Linked DNA regions of Homo sapiens. The protein of the gene in region 3 interacts with the protein of the main gene of each other region in a biochemical or structural test. Each region holds a gene or a part of one and is shown on either strand. Other genes may lie near its edges. The genes, in order: POLA1, ORC5, CDC45, MCM10 and CLSPN.

Region 1 (3,304 bases), on a different chromosome or scaffold from region 3:
AACTTTCAAATTGTCTTTCTGTTGCAGCCCCCCTCTCTTTTTCCACCCCTTTTGGGCATTTTAATTCTCTATAAAACCTGTGGTTGTTCTTTAAAGGACAACTTATGTAATTCAGAAAAGGTTGTGGAGAGCAAATGCGAATGTATAGCCAAGAAACAAAAATCTGGAGTCTGAGTTTTCGTTTTCCGGGTGTTTTGTAGACTTCCCGTGTTGCTGTTGTTGGAGGTTTGCTTTCTGTGAGTGGCGCGCTCTCCCCTCCGTGTTTCCTTCCTGACCGGTTCCTATCGGGAGGTGCTGGGCAGCCTTGCTGCTCCCAGGCCCTTTGGCACAGGCCAGCATCTTATGGGGGCGGAGGCCTCACCTCAGGATCAGCTGATGTCTGAGGCCTGCAAATTTCTATGTGGGAGTAGTGATGTAGTGGCAGGGGGAGTGGGCAGAAGTGAGCCTCTCCTCAGGTGCGGGCTGGGGGTTCTGGCTACCTGGGTTTGCGTGTCTACAACTCTGATTACCTGCTGTGTAACCTTGGGTAAGTGACTTAACCTCCCAGTTTCCTCAGCCATCAAATGGGGATTGGGGGTGGGGGGGGCGCGGGGAAAGCAGCCTCTCCAGACACCTTACCAGGTTCCTGAACACAGCGTCATCCCCCACGTGATCACTCTCTTCACCCAAAAGATCAGACCTGAGCATCACAGCCCCACTGCTCCTTTAAAAGAACAACATGTAGGGCCGGGCGCAGTGGCTCACGCCTGGAATCCCAGCACTTTGGGAGGCCAAGGCAGGAGAATCACTTGAACCCGGGAGGCGGAGGTTGCGGTGAGCCGAGATCGCGCCACTGCACTCCAGACTGGGCAACAAGAGCAAACCTCTGTCTCAAAAAAAAAAAAAGAAAGAAAAAAAACAACATGTAGAAGTAGCAGGCTCTGGGAAGGGAAAGGAGAGGGGTCTTTTCTCTGGCTGGTAGCATCCTGCTCAGAAGGGAAAGGCCAGGGATGAATGGGTTAAAGGAGCAGGAGTGCCGCATACCCTGAGTTCACACAGTGTGGACAAAGAAGAGCAAAGAAATCTTGGCCATGGACAGACAGGTGCCCTCGGGGCCGCTCACCTCTCGCCTCTTTCAGCAAAGGAAATTTTGTTTAGCAGAGGGACTTGGGCTGGAGGGACTAGAAAATGCTTACTAGGCCCAGCTGATCTGGGGAGTTGGGGCTGGAAGGCACCAGAGGCCATAGCTCCCTTTGAGACTAGGTGTTTCCTGCCACGTCCAGACTTCGCAAGCAGTTGCATGCATGTGCTCGCAGCGCCGGTGAAAGTGGCGTCTGCGAGTAGAGCTCACCTTGTCTGCTGCACATGAGGGTGCACCTGCAGTTCACATCAGTAGAGGGTGGCCCTGTCCCCCAGTGCACTGAGTCAGCTAGGTGCTGAGAGGCGGACAGACAGGGGAAAGGAAGAAAAGCTTTCACAGAGGAATGGTCGGCGGGGGCTGCATCTGACTGGCCCCAGGGGTAGACCAGAGATAAGATGGTGGAGATACAAATGGAATCAGCATCCCCTTCTCTGGTGGAATACTGAATGTTCTTTAAAGAAACTACCTGAGACTTCTAATCTCTCTCTCTCTCTTTTTAGATAAATTGAAGAAGCAATTTTTTACCCCCAAAGTTCTGCAGGACTACAGAAAACTCAAGAACACAGCAGAGCAATTCTTGTCCCGAAGTGGCTACTCCGAAGTGAATCTGAGCAAACTCTTCGCTGGTTGTGCCGTGAAATCCTAAGGGAATCCCAGGAGTAACCAAGGAGGGGGTAGTTGAAAAATCCCAGCTTCCTCTGTGCCTCCACTCTGGCCCTAAATGCTCCTCCAGCATCTGTTTCTCCCTTGGGACTGTGTCTCATGTTTGTGTGAATGTAGACCAGGAAAGGGGGCTGCAAAAATGTTGAGTCTAATGTTCGTAAGCATCATAGAAATTCCTGTCTTCATATTAAGATGTACTGCTTTAAAACACAACTCCAGAGCCCCTCCCCAAGCTCCCCTCCCCAAGCTCCTGAAGACCCGGTTTCTGAGGGAGGGAAATTGCTACTTGGATTGAGAGTAGCTGGAATGTAAGTGACCCCAGGCTTTGCCTCAGGGCCTTTAGCCTATGTCCCCCCCACATAAAGAGAGCTTCTCAGAGCCTGACTGAAGAGCTGACGTTTTGCTTTTTCATATGCCAATTAAACCCGGTCTAAATCCAAATGCTTCTCCAGCCATCCAGGAGTGGCTGTCCTTTTCAGTCTTGTCTTTTATATAGGTAGCTGAGGGGGAAGATTTAGAAGCCTTGCACTCACTAAATAGATTAAACAGAGCAGGCTTGTTTGTTGAATTGCTCCAAAGTCCAACAGACACACACTGAGCAGGTGTTTTACACTCACATTCCCTTTTTGCCCCTTAAATAGAAAGTGCAGGTAAAGGTTTATACAACAAGAAAGCACATTGAAAATAATTTGATACTCTAACAATCCATTAACATGTGTAGGGGTTACGGTGAGGATCACTGTGTTGTATTCAGAAAAACGGGGAGAGGGATGCTTAATTGGCCCTGGCGCTTGCTATTTTTTTCTCATTTCTTCACAATAGGACCGTCTTTGGCAGCAGCAAAATGTATTTCAGTATGGCAGTCTTTCCTCTCTTACATTATTGGTAAGATTATACTAACAAAATGTTTCCCCTTGTACAATTATGCTGTGTTTTTAAAAAACATTGACCTGTGTGTTTTTATAAAAGAAAAAGTATGTTGTGCCTTCTTCTTAAGAATAAAGTTTTCTAAAGGGAAAGCAGTTGTGGTGAATCCTTACCAGGTGCAAAGAGTTGACTAGAGAGGCAGCAAGGAGTAAAATGTGAGTAGAGCCAGTTGCTGTGGCACACACCTGTAGTCCTGGCTACTCGGGAGGTGGAGGCAGGAGGATGGCTTGAGCCCAGGAGTTCAAAGCAGACTGGGCAACATAGTGAGGCCCCCACCTCTAAATACATACACACGTACATACATATACATATACATATACATATACATATACATATACATACACACACACATATATATATATACACACACATATATATACACATATATATATATATGACTAGAGGCCATCCCCTTTTCAAACCTCAGCCCAGTTTCTTCATAGCCACCTCTATCAGAACCCAGCTCAGGAGTGCACAGCATGATATTTGGTCGAATGTTCTGAGAAGCATTCAGAATTTCTGTGACTTTAGGTCATTTAAGAGATGAAGTATGGTTTCTTACGTGCTTTGCTGACTTAGAGAGCCAAGCCAAGA
Region 2 (3,519 bases), on a different chromosome or scaffold from region 3:
GAATTCTTTATAGGAAAATACAAATTTGCTTTGAATTTCCATAAGAAAGAAATGGCAAGCTGAAAGAAATAATTGAAGTGAGTTTAATGAAGGGACAGTTTTATAATGGAAATTTTATGGGAATCACTAAGGGATGATGGTACACCAGGGCCTTTACCACCTCCAGGCCTGAAGGGACCATAGAAAGGAGCTGTTATTGGAACCAAACAAGAGGTGTAGCCTTAGAAGAGGGGCTGTCCAACTTGATCTTTGGTAGAAGAGTATCCACTGCCAAGCTAGGGCCACTGAGGGGTCATGGTGGGAGTCAAGGAAATCAATATCCAAACTTCTCTCCCACCATTCTCCCTTAGTCTCCTGCTGGTTCTTTCCATTGGCTTCTCCATCCAGAGACAGAAAATAAGAGAGTCCAGGTGATGTAATTCTGTAGCTGTCAGGCTCTTGGGGCATGGGGTGGGTTTGGTGGGATATAGATTTAGAAAGGCAAATGGAGACTATCCAGCACAGCCATTATTGTGTTTGTGTGTTTTCTTCTTTACTTACAGTGTTTTGGTTTTCGTTTTCAGCTCCCACATGTGTTTGTGAATTGTGTTGAATGCTTTACATTGAGGCTGCTTTTGGAACAAATTTTAAACAAATTGAATCATCTTAGTTCTTCAGAGGATGGATGTTCTACTGAAATAACCTGTGAAACATTTAATGACTTTGTTCGCTTGTTTAAACAAGTAACCACAGCTGAAAATCTTAAAGATCAGACTGTATATATTGTAAGTAATTTCATTTGATTAGATCATCTCTTATCTTGAAAACTGATAATTTATTAGATCAATTTTCATATATTTGTTTTGAGTCTCATTATGTACAGTGCTCTGTGCCAGGTGCTTTTAGTATACAGAAATGTATTAAATATATTCCTTATCCAAGGGAAGCTTCATTTAATAGAAAAGGTATGACACATACATACGACTACATGCAGAATGTGATAAGTGATTGTCACCAGATGCAAAATATTGACTGTGTGTGTCCAATACAGCTTCATGAGGTATTAGCATTTGAGACAGACCTAAATGAATCAGAGTATTCTAGGAAGAAATTGAAGTAGAGGAATTTCAGATAGAATTATATAAGTAAAGGCATGCAGCTGAAAATGGAGGCCAGAGAGTACCAAATAGTCTAGTTTTAGTGGGTTATAAAGTATGACGGGAGAAAAAGAAGACTGGAAGATAGGTTGGGCAGATTGTGGAAGGTCTAGAAAACTATACTAAAGCACTTCATTTAATTTCTTAGGGAGTGGATAGGAGATAGTAAAGACTTTAGAGCAACAAATATGCCTGGTTACTCTGAAGACATGTTAAAATGATCATCTTTGGAATTGGATAAGAACTACCCAAGACTGGATAGTTTATAAAGGAAAGAGATTTAATTGACTTACAGTTCAGCGTGGCTGGGGAGGCCTCAGGAAACTTATAATCAGCAGAAGGCAAAGGGGAAGCAAGGCACCTGCTTCACAAAGTAGAAGGAAGGAGAAGCTCCTTATAAAATCGTCAGATCAGATGTGAGCTCACTATCACAAGAACAGCATGGGGGAACCACCCCCAAGATTCATTTACCTCCACCTGGTCTCTCCCTTGACACATGGAGATTATGGAGATTACAAGTTAAGATGAGATTTGGATGGGGACACAAAGCCTGACCACACCATTCCACACTTGGCCTCTCCCAAATCTCATGTCGGTTTCACATTTCAAAGTCAACTGTGGCTTCCCAATAGTCCCCCAAAGTCTTAACTCATTCCAGCTTAATTAGCCCAAAAGTCCAAGTCCAAAGTCTCATCTGAGATAAGGCAAGTCCCTTCCACCTATGAGCCTATAAAATCAAAAGTAAGTTAGTTACTTTCTAGATACAATGGAGATACAGGCAATGGGTAAATACAGCCTTTTCAAATGGGAGAAATTGGCCCAAACAAAGGGGCTGTAGGCCCCAAGAAAGTCTGCAATCCAATAAGGCAGTCATTAAACTTTAAAGTTCCAAAATGATCTCCTTTGACTCCATGCCTCACATCCAGCCCACTGATGCAAGAGTGGGCTCCCACAGCCTCATGCAGCTCGACCTCTGTGGCTCCATGCCTCACATCCAGCCCACTGATGCAAGAGTGGGCTCCCATGGCCTTGTGCAGCTCCACCTCTGTGGCTTTGCGGGGTACAGTTGCCCTCTCTGCTGTTTTCACAGGCTGGCGTTGAGTATCTGTGGCTTTTCCATGCACACAGTGCAAGCTGTTGAATCTGCCATTCTGGGGTCTGGAGGATGGTGGCCCTCTTCTCATAGCTCCACTAGGCAGTGCCCAGTGGGGACTCTGTAGGGGGGGTCCAACCCCACATTCCCCTTCTGTACTGCCCTAGTAGAGGTTCTCCATGAGGGCCCTGCACCTACAGCCAACTTCTGCCTGGACATCCAGGCATTTCTGTACATCCTCTGAAATCTAGGCAGAGGTTCCCAAACGTTAATTCTTGATTGCTGTGCACCTGCAGGCCCCACATGTAAGCCGCCAAGGCTTGGGGCTTGCACTCTCTGAAGCAACAGCCTGAGCTATACGCTGGCCCCTTTTAGCCATGAGTGGGGATGCAGGACACCAAGTTCCGAGACTGCACAAAGCAGCAAGGCCCTGGCCCACAAAACCATTTTTCCCTCTTAGGCCTCTGGGCCTGTAATGGGATGGGCTGCCACGTGAAGACCTTGGAGACATTTTCCCCGTTGTCTTGGCTGTTAACATTTGGCTCCTTGTTACTTATGCACATTTCTGCAGCTGGCTTGAATTTCTCCCCAGAAAATGGGTTTTTTCTTTTCTACCTCATGGTCTGGCCACAGATTTTCCAAAGTTTTATGCTCTGCTTCCCTTTTAAATGTAAGTTCCAGTTTTAGATAATCTCTTTGTGAATGCATATGACTGAATGCTTTCAGAATCAGCCAGGTCACCTGTTGAATGCTTTGCTGCTTAGAAATTTCTTCCACCAGATACCCTAAATCATCTTTCTCAAGTTCAAAGTTCCACAGATCTCTAGGGCAGGGGCAAAATGCCACCCTTCTCTTTGCTAGAGCATAGCAAGAGTCACTTTTATTCCCTGTCCCCAATTAGTTCCTCATGTCCATCTATGACCACCTCAGTCTGTACTTCATTGTCCATATCACTATCAACATTTTGGTCAAAGCCATCTAACAAGTCTCTAGGAAGTTGCAAACTTTCCCATTTCTTCCTGTCTTCTGAGCCCTCCATCCTGTTCCAACCTCTGCCTATTACTCAGTTGCTATAACAGACTACCAAGGACTGGGTAATTTATAAAGAAAAGACATTTATTTCTCACAGTTGTGGAGGTTAGGAAGTCAAAGGTTGAGGTCCCTGCATCTGGCAAGGGCTTTCTTGCTGCCTCCTCTCATGATGAAAGTAGAAGTACAAGAGAGGATGAGAGTGAGAGCAAGAGGTGGCAGAAGTCCCTTTTATAATAAAGCCATTCTCTCAATAACCCA
Region 3 (3,519 bases):
GCTGCGAGCAGTCTATGCACCAAAGGTTGACATTGCCCTGTCAACAGGCAGGGCACGGGTGGCAGCCCATATAGTTCAATGGAACCCAGTGGCCGCTTGGGCTTTGGGCTTGTCTCTGGGTCCTTCCCACTGAACAGCGAAGGCGCACCAAGCCGCAGGCAAGCAAATGCCCACAAGGGGCTCGAGGCTAGACTCACCATAATGTGTTATAGGACCAGCAGGTTTGTATGCCTGCTGTGCAGTAACAGACTTGTTACACTGAGACAGCAGAGTTTGCAGCAGAGGAAGAGTTTCATGATTGCAGGGCACCGAGTGAGAAGATGGGAGGAGATCCTCAAATCCATCTCCTTGAGGAGTTCTGGGCTGGGCTTTTTTGGTTTTGTTTGTTTGTTTGTTTTTGAGATGGAGTTTTGCTCTTGTTGCCCAGGCTGCAGTGCAATGGCGCTGTCTCGGCTCATCGCAACCTCCGCCTCCCAGATTCAAGTGATTCTCCTGCCTCACCCTCCCAAGTAGCTGGGATTACCAGTATGCAGCAACACGCCCGGCTAATTTTGTATTTGTAATAGAGACGGGGTTTCTTCATGTTGGTCAGGCTGGTCTCAAATTCCTGCCCTCAGGTGATCTGCCCACCTTGGCCTCCCAAAGTGCTGGGATTACAGGCATGAGCCACTGTGCCCGGCCTGGGCTGGGGCTTTTAAGGGGACTGGAGGGTGAGGGGCTGGAAAATTGGGAGAGTTGATTGGTGGGGCAAGGGGGATGTAATCATCAGGGTGTACAAACTGCACTCTTGGTTTAGTCAGCTCCTCGTGGGGTCCTTCGGAGCAGCTCAGTCAGTAGCTCCATCAGTATACAGGACCCAAAGGAATATCTCAAAGGGAAAACAGCATTTCCTAAGGTTCAAGTTGTGATCTACGGAGCAGTTAGGGGAACTACAATCTTGTGACAGGGTCTACATGCTTCTGAGGCAATGAGACACCAAGCAGCTACGAGGAAGCAGTCAGAGAGCACGCCGACCTAGTGACTGATGCTGATGTGCTGCGAGCTGGGTTCATTTTCATTTCTCCCCTCCCCCTGCCCTCATTAATTTTGTAAAGTTTATAGGGAACATTTCACCCACTCTGCTGTGGATCCCTGTCACTTACGGAGTCTGTCATCTTGGCTGTATGGGCTGTGGCCTCTGCGGTGCCCATTCTCAGGAGGTGTGAGACCCATGAGGACCGGAGGTGGACAAGGCTAGAGACCACACCCCCCCGCTCCATCCAATCATGTTTTCCTGGGTGCTTGGTTTCTATGCAGGCTGCATGTCCTTAGTCCCTGCATGGGAACAGCTCCTGTGGTGAGCAGGCCCCTGAGGAAGGCCTTGAGCGGGAATGGAGCCTAGGCTTAGGCTGCCTGGTAAGAGCTGGAGGGAACCAGCCGAGGCTTGTGCTACTTTTTTTTCCAGAATGAAATACGTGACTGATGTTGGTGTCCTGCAGCGCCACGTTTCCCGCCACAACCACCGGAACGAGGATGAGGAGAACACACTCTCCGTGGACTGCACACGGATCTCCTTTGAGTATGAGTATCCTTGTGGCCCAGCCTGAGGGGCACAGGCAGCACCCCTGCTCAGCAGGCCTTGTTTGCTTTGTCACCCTCTGTGGGTTCTGGCCACATCCCCAGGAGGGAAAGCAGGTGGGGCAGGAAGTTTTGGGGGAAGGGGCTGTGGTGTGCTACCCCAGCTCATCTGTGTGGCTTTGGCTTCTAAATGCCAGAGCTGAGTTTGGAAGTATCACCCTTCTCCAGCACATCCCTGTAAAGTGCTTATTGTGGGCCTGGCTCTGGACATGGTAGCAGTGCGGGCAGTGGTTCACGCAGTCAGGAAAGAAGGCAGCTGCCATGTAATCACACAGCGTGACGTGTCTTTTGAGAAGCACATGGGACATTGGTGGAGTGCTCAGAAAAGACCATGGGGAGACCACATCTCACACAGTCTCAGCCACACTCAGTGTGGCAGCTGCTGTACTGAGCACAGGAGGGGCTGGGGGACTGGCTGGGGTCAGGTGTCAGGAGGCCAGAGCAAGCCTTGTGAGCCAAGGGCAGCGGGAGGCTGTGGAGTGACCAGAGTTTGAGTCAGGGTTTTTAAAAGGTCCCTTGGCTGCCCAGTAGAGGTAGGTTGGGGGCAAGGAGATGGTCACTGCTTTCCAAGGCCACACAATAGTGGCTTGGCCCAAACTGCAGCAGTGGCTGTAAGCAGTCAGATAGCATGATGTCAGGGACGGAGCTGCCCTGTCTCTGCACTGTGATGGCTGGGAAGGAGGAAGAGTGAGGGTGGACACGTCAGTAGTCAGGTGGCCATCGGAGCCTGGGGAGCGGGGTGGAGCTGGCTGAACTCCTGGGGAGGGGAGCCGCTGTGCACTGGAGCTGGTCCCATCATGTGCGTGGCAGGGTGGGCTCACTTACCCAGGGACCATGGGAGTGTGTGACTGAGACAGGAGGGAGGGAGTCAGGGAGCTGAGGATGCTGGGGCTTGAGGAAGCTGCTGGAGTGTGGGCAGGGAGCATGGTGGTCTGAAGGCCTGGGAGTTCCCAGGAGTTGGGAGGGGCAGTGGTGGGAACTGAGCATGCCGAGGAAGCAGGCAGGACCAGGCTCTCGTCCTGTAGAGGGGAAATCCACCGTGGGGGACAGTCCACACTCACAACTGCGCTCACGGTGCCAGGGGCAGTGATGGATATGTTTAAGAAAAGGGCTGAGGAGGTCGGGCGCTGTGGCTCACGCCTGTAATCCCAGCACTCTGGGAGGCCAAGGCAAGTGGATCATGAGGTCAGGAGATCGAGACCATCCTGGCTAACACGGTGAAACCTCGTTTCTACGAAAAATACAAAAAATCAGCCAGGCATGGTGGCGGGTGCCTATAGTCCCAGCTATTCGGGAGGCTGAGGCAGGAGAATGGCGTGAATCCAGAAGGTGGAGCTTGCAGCGAGCCGAGATCGTGCCACTGCACTCCAGCCTGGGCGACAGAGCGAGACTCCGTCTCAAAAAAAAAAAACGAAAAAAGGGCTGAGGATGGGGGCGCTTCGTGGATGGGGTCCCAGTGGAGGGCTCTCCGGAGGAATGGGTTGTAGGGAGGGCTGGGCTAGGTGGAGCAGGAGGTGCAGGACGACAAGCTGGTGACGCCCAGCCTCCTACGTCATGTGTGGCCATGACTGCTCCATGTGACCACAGCACCTGGACTTTGCAGACCCCTGTGCTCCAGATTCTCTGCCTGTCAGACGGATGGTGGTCTATGCCTGTCACTTCACAGGCTCTCTGTATGGGTCAGCTTAAGCTAAGAAGGTCAAAGGGCTCCAGGTCACTCTTGGGATACCTGGTTTTGCAGGCAGGCCTGGTGAGAAAGGGCCCCGCCATCAGAGTGGCCCACCTGCTGGAGTTACGAGAGTGCTCAGGGCGGCCAGTGGGTGCTTGCATGCTCCTTGACTGCAGGCCCAGCCTCCGCCTGGTGCTCTACCAGCACTGGTCCCTCCATGACAGCCTGTGCAA
Region 4 (3,519 bases), on a different chromosome or scaffold from region 3:
TTCTTCTGATTTCCTTCTCCTCATCTCCAACATCCGCTGCTTCTGTTGCTTCAAGAGTGCTGAGGCCGAGATGGACTTGATGGCTGGTTTTGGGCTCCCCATAATCCCTGAAACAGAAGCCCAGACTGAGGGGGTGCCCTGGGAGGCTGAGGGAACACAGGGACACACGTGTGGCCATGCAGCTGATGGTACCTGAAGCTGTGGCTTTGGCTAAATGTTGTTTTAAGTTCCTGGCTCCACACGTCGGCAGGTCCATCAGTTCCTTGAACTCCTCAGAGCAAGACAGGCTCTTCTGGGGTATTCCTGTGCCAGGTCAACACCAGCTTTAGAGGATTCACATTCAGATGGTTTGAGGTCATATGACATACCACTTTCTAAACTCTGCACTTGTAATTTTAGTCATACGTAAACGAAGAAGACGGAATCCCAAGAGGAAAGAAAAGAATCCTTAACCTCTATCATCAGACTCATAGGATGGCAGGGTATCTCGACTATATTTTATTTCTAGTAATGATTAGAATATTAAGCCCTTAAATCTGGGGGTCATTCCATACCCTGTTTCTGGAATATCCGCTAAGGATAAGGGTCCCTGACCACAAGCCCAGGATGGGGGCTGCATTCTCTGATCAAGACTTGTTTTTATTTGTTTTTATTTTATTAAAAATTTTTTTGTTTTTATGACCAAGACCCATTTTAACAAAAGATAACCAATAAGCTTGGCCAGGAAGATAATACTGCTGATTCTAATGCTGGATGTAAAGAGTTGGACCCAGATACACCAAGAAATTTTAAAAAGCATACTAAGGTAAGACATAGCTAAAATCAATATGCTGTTTTTTTCCTTAAGGTCCTGCAAACCTGGCTTGATTCCTTTAGGTTAGACCGCGCCACTCACTAAGTACAGGTGATGACTGGATTCTTATTACTTAAGAGTATGAGCTGTATCCATTTTCAACCCTAAAGACTGCTTGCTTGCTTGCTTGCTTGCTTGCTTATTTATTTATTTTTGTGCATGAATAAGTTCTTAGTGGTGATTTCTGAGATTTTGGTGTACCCATCACCGGAGCAGTGTACCCTGTACCCAATGTGTAGTCTTTTATCCCTAAGGCTGCATAATTAAACTGGAGAAAGAAATTTCTTATGGAAAAACAAAGTTACCGAGTTTTTGCCGTGTTTCCTGGATGATCAAGTTTGTGCCCTTAACAACCAGATTACTCAGAGTGGTTTGAATCTTCTTCTTAGGAGCCACAGCTGCTGCACTGAAATGACAAGTCACCCCCAAAAGGAGAATCACTAAAGCCTCAATGCTCTGATGAGGTAAAGAAGGCATAGATATCATCATTTATTACACACACCGTCAAAGTTTCTCAAAACACCATCTAAGTAGGCTTTCTTAATGTTACGGCCCAATAGCATAACTGGTTTATGCACTGTGTCACAGAGGAAAAGCTAGAGGCAGCCTACAAATCCACTTGAGGCCATTCTGGAAGGAAATTTGGCAAAAGAAATAAAAAAAAAGCCAATGCTTTGATCCAGCAGTCTGGATATTTATCTTAAAATAATTAAGGATTATGCAAAAATTTAGGATATTAATGGCAGCTTTGTTTATAATGTCATACATTGGAAACACCATTAACGTTCACCCACAGGGAATTGTTTAAATGAATTAAGGCAGAGTATGCAAAAGAACACTATGTAGCCACTGAAAATACATGAGAAAAACATTAATTATTTTACACTGGAAAAAAAGTGGATACAAAGAATAGGAACAATATGATCTCATTTTATATTACTAAAAATGTACACATATGAAGAAACACAACACCTAGGAGTATATATACCAAGGAACTAACAGTTTGGGGTTTTTTTTTTGAGACAAGATCTCACTCTGTTGTCCAGCCTGGAGTACAGTGGAGCAATCCTGACTCACTGCAGCCTCAACTTCCCCAGGCTCAAGCAATTCTCCCATCTCAGCCTCCCAAACAGCTGGGACTACAGGCATGTGCCACCATGCCCAGCTAATTTTTTTTGCATTTTGTAGAGATGGGGTTTTGCCATGTCGCTCAGGCGGGTCTCAAATTCCTGGGCTTAAGCAATCCTCCTGCCTTGGCCTCCCGAAGTGCTGGGATTACAGGTGTAAGCCACTGTGCCTGGCCTAGAACTAACAGTTTTTCAGGTGATAGGATTATAGTTGGTTTTTATTTTCTCCATTGGTTGGATTGTATGTTCTTTTAAAAGACTAATATACATGTATTGTTTTAGCAGATTGGAAAAATTCAGAAATAATTTTAAATCTCAAAAACATGCTTACTGTTAAAAAAGAAACAGGAAATGAGTCCTCTTGCCCCATTCCTGCTGGATTGGGAACAAAAATCTATGTTTTATTCTTGGACCAACTGTAGCTGCCTCGTGCCAAGTCCTCAGATATGCTTTATATAATGTAGTGACGAGGCCACTGATTACAAGCTTATCCAAACCATAGCCTGCGGGCCACATGCAGCCCAGGATGGCTTTGAATGCGGCCCAACACAAATTCATAAACTTTCTTAAAACATTAAGAGATTTTTCTTTTCTTTTCTTTCTTTTTTTAAGCTTATAGGCTATCATTAATATATTTTATGTGTAGTCCAAGACAATTCTTCCAAAGGGGCCCAGGGAAGCCAAAAGATTGGACACCCCTGGATTACAGCGTCAGGGGCTGTAGTGACTCTGAACCCCCAGGCAAGGGGCCATGGATGCCTGCCCAGCATCGCCCCACTCCCCATGTGAAGCTTCATAGTATATTCACTCACTGAATGAAATTTGGGTTCCATGAGGTCTGTAGCCTCACTCATATAGTCATACGAGAAATAATTAAAAGGGTGTTAACACTGTAATTAACACATTTTTAATGGCCCTGATGAAGGTGCACTATTCACATTAGAAGTCAAAGAGGGGCTGGGAGCAGTGGCTCATGCCTGTAATCCCAGCACTTTGGGAGGCCGAGGCAGGCAGATCACCTGAGGTCAGGATTTCGAGACCAGCCTGGCCATCATGGTGAAACCCTGTCTGTACCAAAAATGCAAAAATTAGCTGGGCGTGGTGGCACGCGCCTGTAGTCCCAGCTACTCAGGAGGCTGAGGCAGAAGAATCACCTAAACCCAGGACTTGGAGGTTGCAGTGAGCTGAGACTGCACCACTGCACTCCAGCCTGGGTGATAGAGTAAGACTCCGTCTCAAAAAAAAAAAAAAAAGTTGAAGAGGAAGAGTGGGCTCTCTTAAAGTCCAACACAACATAAGTCAATCTCTCTCTCTCCTGAAAGTTTTTCTCTCTACCTGGGAATAAAAGCGGTCTTTAACCAACTTGTTTCAAGTAGTGAGTTATGAAAGATAAAACCTGTACAAGTATCCTATGACGGTTACAGGAAGGTACAACCAGTAGGTTTAGTCTTTGATAAGCAAAATCCTCTGCCCAAAAGAAGCCCGAGAACGTCTTACATTGAAGCTGCATACGAGGCAGAAGAAACCCCTCCGTAGTAA
Region 5 (3,519 bases), on a different chromosome or scaffold from region 3:
CAAAGGATACATGTGAGTTAGAAACCAGTAAGAATGTTCTAGATTTTATATGCTTGTCTGTTGATGAAACATGGGCTTTTTCTGGCCTGATCCAAATTGCCATATGATGTTGTGAAATACTGGATTTTTAAATGATTGGATTATGCTTTTTGTTTATGTATTACTTAGGAAGATGATGTAGAACAGCCATTTAATGACAGTGGCTGTCTTCTTGTGGATAAAGACCTTTTTGAAACTGGGTTGGAGGATGAAAATAACTCTCCATTGGAAGATGAAGAGTCATTAGAATCAATAAGAGCAGCTGTAAAAAACAAAGTAAAAAAGCACAAGGCAAGTAAAGCATGATTGCAATAAGAGTTAATCAACTGCTTCTGACCTTTGCTATATTTTTAATTTACTGTTGGAACCTTAATTTTTTTTTTAACTGAAGAAAAACTTGTGTCAGTTGACTTAAGTGTTTCAGCTGTTAATTTTGGAGACTTGCAGTACAAGTGATAGACATGCTAACTTCTTTGGAAACTAGTGTTTTGTTATTACCCTTTTAGGAATGCTGAAAAAAAAAACCACTAAGATATTTGATGGTGTAGTAAGATGCAGGTAAATAATAGGGAAGAGATGTAAATTTTGCAATCCTATAGCCTTTGAGAAATGAACCCTATAGGGTTTCAGGAAGGGTATCAAAGAGAGGCATCAGTCAAAACATTGTTGTCCCGAGTGTTTGGAAGCATAATTTTTCTTCCTAAGATTTTTTTTTAGCTTCCTGCGAGTTATTATCCCTCTTTAGGGAAAGATGTAAGCAGAGGTAAAAGAAATAAGGGTCCAGACTCCATCTGAGGTATCTGTTTTCTAAGCATAATAGGATGCTGTGTGTTTAATAATTTCTAGTTGATGATTATTGATTTATTAATGTAGCATGATGTGGTGTTGGACTACAAAAGTAGTCTTCAGCTAAAGCATCCTCTTATTTGAATTTCGTTTTTGTCCTAATCAACCTGCCATTTCTTTTAGAAAAAAGAACCATCTTTGGAGAGTGGGGTCCATTCATTTGAGGAAGGAAGTGAGTTATCAAAAGGAACCACGAGGAAGGTGAGGTAGAGCCCTGTATATTAGTCACACTGATCTCTTTACACAGGAGATTATAGATTTCTTAGGGATAAATATTTTATTTTGTCTATCATATTTTTCTGTTACCCATCATATTGCTTTGTACATAGTAGGAACAAAATATGGATTGGATTGAACAAATTCTCTGAGACTTGGGAATAAATGAATTCCTTGAGTTTATACTGCATTTGGGCTTACTCATGCTTACTATTTCCTTTCCTCTTTTCTTGGAGAGAGCAAACTCTTGAGTGATGAATATCTATCTTTCTGGATATTCATATAATTAATGTAGTCTCACTTCTTGTTTTCTTTAAGGAAAGAAAGGCAGCCAGATTAAGTAAAGAAGCATTAAAACAACTGCATAGTGAGACTCAGCGCCTTATTCGAGGTAATGCAACCCAGTAAACTTTGAGGCAAAATCACAACATTTCTTTGTAAGCTCAACTTGGATGTTGGGGACTTTTATTTTTTTAACACTTCTAATGTGAACTCAGGTTATAATATTAAGTTTAGAATTGATCTTGGTGAAAGGCCATTGTTCTAAAGCCCTTGGAACATTAGTATAAACTGAAGAAATTTTCAGAACTGTAGTGCAGGTAAGGAGGAAATTTTTTAATGGTTGTCTATGGACTGATTGTGTCAGGATTCTTTGGAGAGGTAGTAATCCCTCCCTATTTGCAGTTTTGGTTACCTGTGTCAGCCATGGTCCATGGAACTTAAAAATATCATCCCTTTGTCCAGAGTATCACGCTGTATACATTACCTGCCTGTTAGTCCGTTAGTAGCCCTCTCAGTTATCAGATCAAAAAAACACTGCATGGTTTAGTACCATCTGCAGTTTCAGGCATCCACTGCAGGTCTTGGAATGTGTCTGTCTGGATAAGCGGGGACTACTGTATATAAATGTTTAGGTCCCACAGAGATTCTGATTCAGTAGATTCGAAATGGGATCCAAGAATCTGTATTTCTAAAAAACTTCCTGGATCATTTTGATTTCACATCTAGGTTTAAAAGCCACTGGTCTTCAGGGAGCTTTTTTGTACTTAGCTCCTCTGCCTTTGTTAAAGGGGAGTTTTCTATTTCTAGTGATGGCTTTGGTTATTATGTTTAGTTAACTGAATATGAAGTGACATTTCAGAATATACAGTATATATATTTGCTTGTTTTATTCCATTTTATAGAGTCTGCACTGAACCTTCCATATCATATGCCTGAGAATAAAACCATTCATGATTTCTTCAAACGTAAACCCCGGCCCACTTGCCACGGAAATGCCATGGCACTATTGAAGTAAGAACCCTCTTTCCTTATTATAATTTTCATGAACATTTAGTTTTGTAGCAAACATCTGGCATAAAAAGTTCAGATTTCTCACTCCCTTAAAACTGATTTAACTGATATATACTAAGGGATGAGAATGTTTCACATTTAGGATAATTTTCAACTCCAGCTCAATTTCTCTTCTCTAGGTCATCTAAATATCAGTCAAGCCATCACAAAGAAATCATAGACACTGCAAATACTACTGAAATGAACAGTGATCACCATAGTAAAGGTTCTGAGCAGACAACAGGTGCAGAAAATGAAGTGGAAACTAATGCACTCCCTGTAGTTTCAAAGGAAACCCAGATCATTACTGGATCAGATGAGTCTTGCAGGAAGGATTTGGTAAAAAATGAAGAGCTAGAAATTCAGGAGAAACAGAAGCAGAGTGACATTAGACCTTCACCTGGGGACAGCTCAGTGTTGCAACAGGAATCCAACTTCCTCGGGAACAATCACAGTGAGGAATGTCAGGTTGGAGGGCTTGTAGCATTTGAACCTCATGCCCTGGAGGGTGAAGGCCCCCAAAATCCAGAAGAAACAGATGAGAAAGTGGAAGAGCCTGAGCAGCAAAATAAATCATCAGCAGTTGGGCCACCTGAAAAAGTGAGACGGTTTACTCTGGATAGACTTAAGCAACTGGGAGTAGATGTTTCCATTAAACCACGGCTAGGTGCTGATGAAGATTCCTTTGTGATACTTGAACCTGAAACCAACAGAGGTAATCCTTTACATTGTGGGGAGCCTCCCTGGAGTGATTATCCTGGTAGCTTTTGATTATTGACTACTGTCGAGGACAGAGAACACAGGAGGAACCAATAACCACTTTGATCTTATCCTGCAGTTGTTCCAGATATGGGCAGAGTCTTTTTTAGAGAAATTTGGCAGGGTATCAGAATGATCTAAGCCATGTTTAAAATGGAAGTCTGTTGGCTGGGTGCGGTGGCTTACGCCTGTAATCCCAGCACTTTGGGAGGCCAAGGCGGGCAGATCACGAGGTCAGGAGTTTGAGACTAGCCTGGCCAATACAGTGAAACCCCGTCTGTACTAAAAATACAAAAATTAGCCGGGCATGGTGGCACGCATCTGTAG

Evidence for each region.
Region 1: the proteins of CDC45 (region 3) and POLA1 form a complex in vitro, tested with the Homo sapiens proteins (one study listed by BioGRID).
Region 2: the proteins of CDC45 (region 3) and ORC5 form a complex in vitro, tested with the Homo sapiens proteins (one large-scale study listed by BioGRID and IntAct).
Region 4: the proteins of CDC45 (region 3) and MCM10 form a complex in vitro, tested with the Homo sapiens proteins (one large-scale study listed by BioGRID and IntAct).
Region 5: the proteins of CDC45 (region 3) and CLSPN form a complex in vitro, tested with the Homo sapiens proteins (one study listed by BioGRID).

The regions. Positions count from the first base shown.
Region 1 is NC_000023.11:24,994,185-24,997,488, forward strand, and holds the end of POLA1 (DNA polymerase alpha catalytic subunit), read left to right. Parts: intron 1-1,620; coding exon 1,621-1,766; 3' UTR 1,767-2,802; downstream 2,803-3,304. UniProt on the Homo sapiens protein: Catalytic subunit of the DNA polymerase alpha complex (also known as the alpha DNA polymerase-primase complex) which plays an essential role in the initiation of DNA synthesis.
Region 2 is NC_000007.14:104,198,003-104,201,521, reverse strand, and holds part of ORC5 (origin recognition complex subunit 5), read left to right. Parts: intron 1-563; coding exon 564-764; intron 765-3,519. UniProt on the Homo sapiens protein: Component of the origin recognition complex (ORC) that binds origins of replication. DNA-binding is ATP-dependent. The specific DNA sequences that define origins of replication have not been identified yet.
Region 3 is NC_000022.11:19,503,918-19,507,436, forward strand, and holds part of CDC45 (cell division control protein 45 homolog), read left to right. Parts: intron 1-1,444; coding exon 1,445-1,564; intron 1,565-3,468; coding exon 3,469-3,519. UniProt on the Homo sapiens protein: Required for initiation of chromosomal DNA replication. Core component of CDC45-MCM-GINS (CMG) helicase, the molecular machine that unwinds template DNA during replication, and around which the replisome is built.
Region 4 is NC_000010.11:13,189,039-13,192,557, reverse strand, and holds part of MCM10 (protein MCM10 homolog), read right to left. Parts: coding exon 3,478-3,519; intron 1,260-3,477; coding exon 1,159-1,259; intron 304-1,158; coding exon 193-303; intron 108-192; coding exon 1-107. UniProt on the Homo sapiens protein: Acts as a replication initiation factor that brings together the MCM2-7 helicase and the DNA polymerase alpha/primase complex in order to initiate DNA replication. Additionally, plays a role in preventing DNA damage during replication.
Region 5 is NC_000001.11:35,759,971-35,763,489, reverse strand, and holds part of CLSPN (claspin), read left to right. Parts: intron 1-168; coding exon 169-330; intron 331-1,008; coding exon 1,009-1,086; intron 1,087-1,419; coding exon 1,420-1,492; intron 1,493-2,285; coding exon 2,286-2,394; intron 2,395-2,573; coding exon 2,574-3,148; intron 3,149-3,519.